2 separate regions of the Homo sapiens genome follow, and region 2 is linked to region 1. Evidence: fine-mapped expression QTL. Tissue or cell type: whole blood. Region 1 holds a variant in brackets; the other region holds the start of a gene. All regions are shown on one strand. Distances are between the middles of the regions.

What was found. PIP is the estimated chance that this variant, and not a neighbour inherited with it, causes the effect.
Region 2: it holds the start of HCST, and the variant in region 1 is fine-mapped to the expression of HCST in whole blood (TOPMed, PIP above 0.99).

The regions. Positions count from the first base shown.
Region 1 is chr19:35,849,636-35,852,135 of GRCh38, reverse strand. NPHS1 (NPHS1 adhesion molecule, nephrin) reads left to right here. Exons shown (of 29, transcript NM_004646.4): 1 at 1-356; 2 at 464-679; 3 at 752-874; 4 at 1,047-1,175; 5 at 1,691-1,772; 6 at 2,483-2,500. The coding sequence starts at 299. It also overlaps a transcript of KIRREL2 not described here. Among named protein-coding and RNA genes, the nearest start is that of NPHS1, 1.6 kb to the left of the region's middle. RefSeq lists enhancers at 1-345, 346-986. The variant T/C (reference allele first, on the strand shown) is at 981.
Region 2 is chr19:35,901,072-35,903,812 of GRCh38, reverse strand. HCST (hematopoietic cell signal transducer) reads right to left here and starts at 1,284. Exons shown (of 4, transcript NM_014266.4): 1 at 1,177-1,284; 2 at 397-462; 3 at 1-41. The coding sequence starts at 1,219. It also overlaps a transcript of NFKBID not described here.

The sequences.
Region 1 (2,500 bases):
CCAACATAGTGAGACCCCGTCTCTAAAAAAAAAAAAAAGAAAAAAAAAAGAAAAAAGAAAAAAAAGTTTTTTTAAAGAGACAGAGAAAGAGACTCAGAGATTGAGACTGAGAGCAAGACAGAGAGAGATACTCACAGGGAAGAGGGGAAGAGGAAAACGAGAAAGGGAGGAGAGTAACGGAAAGAGATAAAAAAGAAAAGCAGGTGGCAGAGACACACAGAGAGGGACCCAGAGAAAGCCAGACAGACGCAGGTGGCTGGCAGCGGGCGCTGTGGGGGTCACAGTAGGGGGACCTGTGATGGCCCTGGGGACGACGCTCAGGGCTTCTCTCCTGCTCCTGGGGCTGCTGACTGAAGGTGAGTGGGATCCCAGCCTTGTACCCAGCGCCAAGTGGCCCCCATTTCCCACTTACCTTCCCTAGACAAACCCTCTGCCCTTTCCTTGCACCGCGCTGTGTCCTCAGGCCTGGCGCAGTTGGCGATTCCTGCCTCCGTTCCCCGGGGCTTCTGGGCCCTGCCTGAAAACCTGACGGTGGTGGAGGGGGCCTCAGTGGAGCTGCGTTGTGGGGTCAGCACCCCTGGCAGTGCGGTGCAATGGGCCAAAGATGGGCTGCTCCTGGGCCCCGACCCCAGGATCCCAGGCTTCCCGAGGTACCGCCTGGAAGGGGACCCTGCTAGAGGTAAGGGATCAGAGCCTGAGACCCTCAGCCACCAGCGGAAGCTGCGGCCCTGACTTCCGGCTCCCCCTGCAGGTGAATTCCACCTGCACATCGAGGCCTGTGACCTCAGCGATGACGCGGAGTATGAGTGCCAGGTCGGCCGCTCTGAGATGGGGCCCGAGCTCGTGTCTCCCAGAGTGATCCTCTCCATCCTGGGTATGGGTGAGAGACGCCCAGGACCCATGAGTCTGGGCTTCAAGCCCTCCCCTACCCCGCAACCCGGAAGTCCAAGCCCCCAGCCTCTCCTCTCCCAGACTCTGGG[T/C]ACCGAACTCCAATCTTCAAGTCCTTCTCAGTGCTGGAAGCTTACCCCAGACCCTTCTCTCACCAGTTCCTCCCAAGCTGCTCCTGCTGACCCCAGAGGCAGGCACCATGGTCACCTGGGTAGCTGGGCAGGAGTACGTGGTCAACTGTGTGTCTGGGGACGCGAAGCCAGCACCTGACATCACCATTCTCCTGAGTGAGTGTGGGTGAACTGGGTGGCAGGGGGCAGCATGAAGCCTCTGGAGTGGGAAGGGTGTGTGTTCCTGACCAGTACCCTTCTAAGGGCCCCAGAAAAGATGTCATCCCTGGGATGGGGACCCAGGAGAAGGTGTGGGGAGATGCTGAGGCCAGTGTGGGACCCAGTGGATGCGAGGGCACATCGAGGGCGGCAGCAACCAGCACAAGGCTGAGGCCCAGATAGAAATATGGGCAGTAGCGCTGGTGCAGACATGAGAAGCTGAGGGATAGGGTGCATGGTACAACCCAGCAAGGAGTTGAGAAGAGCGGGGAGGCCCAGGACCCAGCACTGAAGACTGCGGCATTCAGGCAGTCCAGAAAGTCGGGAGGGGATGCAGCTCTGCCCCAGGCCCTTTTCCTCTAGAACGAGGAGGGAGGGGGCATCGCACCCACCCTGAGGACTTCCAGGCCATGCTCCCCAGAATCTATCTTGCGGGGAGCCTGGAACCCCTCTAGCCCTCTTGCTGCCCCAAGGTGGACAGACAATATCTGACATCTCTGCAAACGTGAACGAGGGCTCCCAGCAGAAACTCTTCACTGTGGAGGCCACAGCCAGGTGTGGAAACTGAAACAACCCCCCAACCTTGACCCCTAATTTTCCCCATGGGAACCCCAGACCCCAGGGATGCAAGCATGAAGCTTGGGCTAGGTATGAACATCTGGGACCCAATTCTTCATCCTGACTCTCAAAGCTTCTTCATGGGGAACAGAGGTGGTGGCTCATGCCTGTAATCCCAGCACTTTGGGAGGCTGAGGTGGGCGGATCACCTGAGGTCAGGAGTTCAAGATCAGCTGGGTCAACATGGTGAAACCCTGTTTTCACTAAAAATACAAAAATTAGCCGGGTGTGGTGGCGCATGCCTGTACTCCCAGCTCCTCAGGGGGCTGAGGCAGGAGAATCACTTGAACCCAAGAAGTGGAGGTTGCAGTGAGCTGAGATTGTACCACTGCACTCCAGCCTGGGTGATAGAGCCAGATTCTGTCTCAAAAGACAAACAAACAAATAAACAAACAAAAAAACTTCATGGGAACCTCAGTTCTAGAGTCCCAAGCACTAAAGTTTTGGTCAGATGTGGGGCTCTCTAGGCTCCAATTCTCACTGTTCACCCCCAAAATCTCTCCCATGGAACCCTGGATCCCAGAGGAGATCAGCATGGGGACTTAGACCAGGTGTGGGGACCAGAGGTGACATCCCCACCTCTTCTCCCTGACTCCCCAAATTTCAGATGATGACTCTGACTCTATAACCCTGACTTCTCATCCCAGGGTGACACCCCGGAGCTC
Region 2 (2,741 bases), 52 kb before region 1:
CAGGAGCGGCAGAGAGAGGGACCCACATCCGGAACAAGAGCCTGGAGAGTGGGGGCCGGAACAGGGAGACAACTCAAGCTCTGCGTCCTGGGGCTGTGCTTTGGCCACAGGCAGAGAGGAAGTCCCCTGCGAGGGGGCGGGTCCCAGGTTCCTTGGAGTTGCGCTTGGGGAATGAAACGGGAGACAGATGCAGAGAGGCTGGGGTGTCCCAGGACCCTCGGGGCTGTGCGGCGGGCACACGGGGTGCTCCTGAACACAGGCTGGGGGTCGCTGATTCTGGGACTCGGAGAAGGACACGGATCCTCTGATTTGGGGACGGGAGGTGGGATGGTGACCTGGAGAACCACTGGGGTGTTCTGGGAGCCTCTGGCCAAGCTTCTGGGGTGGAAGTGATACCTGAAGTGCCAGGGTAAAAGGCAGGGAGTGATGATCTCTCTCCTGGAGTCGTCTGAGCTGCAGCCACTGTGGAAAGAGAAAGAAGGTGGATGAGGGTGGAGAGAAGGTCCACAAAACAGAATGCTCAGCCTGGCACCGTGGCTCACGCCTGTCATCCCAGCACTTTGGGAGGCCGAGGCAGGAAGATCGCTTGAGCCCAGGAGTTCGAGACCAGCCTGGGCAACATAGTGAGACCTCGTCTCTACAAGAAATACAAAAATTAGCTGGAAGTGTTGGTTCACACCTGTAATCCCAGTTACTCGGGAGGCTGAGCTGGGAGGATCACCTGAGCCCAGGAAGTCAAGGCTGCCGTGAGCCGTGATTGTGCCACTGCACTCCAGCCTGGACAACAGAGCAAGACCCCATCTCAAAATAAACAAACCAAAAAATAGGGTGTAGAGAAGGAAAGGTAGTGTCCTGAGAAGTAATCTCCAGGCTGGAGAGATGGAACAGGACCACATGGGAAGGGGACTCCCAGAGACATGGAGAGTGACAAGAAATTGGAAGTGGCAGCAGAGACCCAGCCATGAGAAGGGGACGCTAACAGGCAGCCCCTCCAGAACTCCCTGTCTCACCCCCTTCCGCCCCCAAGGACCCAGGCCCTGAAGCAGAATGGATCTCCCAGAAGGGAAGGGGTGCAGGGAGAAGAACCCCACTTTCATCACCCGTCCCTGCAGACGTCACCCAAGCACCCATCTCACAAACGCTCTGCCTACCATCCCCTGTAACCACTGGCTTCACCTGGGAGCAAAAGCAGGAAGAGGATGTGACCCAGATGGATCATGGTGGACTGGGGTCTGGCAGGGGTCTGGCAGAGGACTGTGGTCCAGAGAAGTCCAGAGGAACTGTGGGGGAGCAGAGAAGTAGCAATAGCGGATGTCACCCTGCTGGTGTCAAGGCCATCTGCTTCCTGTGTGTGTTGAGGGGGTGTCTCCGTTACTGCCTTTGGTGAACGAACTCAGGGGGAGGGTCAGAGAGACCAGGGAGGCTGCTGGCCTGGTCCAAGTGGGAATGACAGGTGGCAAGGGTGTGCAGGCTAGGGAGATCTGGAAATATTTTGGAGGTAGGGCCAAGAAAATTTGCTGATTAAATGAATGTGGGTGTGTTTGAGAGGGATCCTAGACAGCCAAGCCTTCTGGCATGAAACGCTGAGAAGATGGGAGTGTCTGCTGGCAGAGATGAAAGGTAGGGAAGTGGGTTTGCGGGGAAAGTGACGAGGTTTGGGCATACAGGGTTGGAAATGCCTGACAATCTCCCTGTGGAGATGCTGAATAACCTCACTGCATTTAGGAGTTCAGGGGATAAGGCTGGTCTGGAGATGTAAATTTGGGGGTTGATGGCTTATGGATGGTACTTAAAGCCACAAGACTGGGTGAGATCACCAAGGAAGTGAGTGCAGACAGGATTCTGCCCCTATCACAACACACACTGAATGGGGGAAGAGGAGGAACTTTGCCAGGGAAATGGAGAAAGAGGGAGGGGACCCCTGAGAGCATGGCATCTTGAAAGCAGGGGAGAGGCCACCGCAGTGGCTCATGCCTGTAATCCCAGCACTTTGGGAGGCCAAGGTGGGGGGATCACCTGAGATCAGGAGTTCAAGCCAATATGGTGAAACCCCGTCTCTACAAAAATACAAAAATTACCCGGGCATGGTGTCAGGCTCCTGTAATCCCAGCTACTTGGGAGACTGAGGCAAGTGGAGGTTGCAGTGAGCCGAGATCTCACCACTTTGCCACTGCACTCCAGCCTGGGCGACAGAATGAGACCCTCTCTCTAACAATAAAAATGTAATAATAAAATAAAATAGAAAAGCAAGCAAGCAGGGGAGAAATAGGGCCAACATGGTCAGTGCTGTGAAAGGTCACCAAGTGAAACTGAGAGTGGCCTCCCACTGGAATGCCAGCTCCAGGGCTGGGAATTCCTGCCTGCTTAGTTCACAATACACAGCAAAATGCCTCCTCTGCTGCAATAAATTATTTTAAATGATGAATGAGTAAATGAAACCAGACCTCTAAAAAGGGTGATGTAGGGGAGAGGGAGAAATTGAGCCACACCCTATACCCTTACCCACAGACCCTTCCTCTGGGAGTCTAGACCCCCAGTCCTGCCTCCCTCTGGACCCAGTAATATTCTCCCTGCCCCCACCCCATCTCCATCCCCACTCCTACCCCTACCCCCATGGGCAGGACCCAGGAGACAAAGCCTCCAGCACCCCCTTAGACACAGACCCAGAAATCCAGGCCCCAGCCAGGCACCATGGCTCAAGCCTGTAATCCCAGCACTTTGGGAGGCCAAGGCAGGCGGGT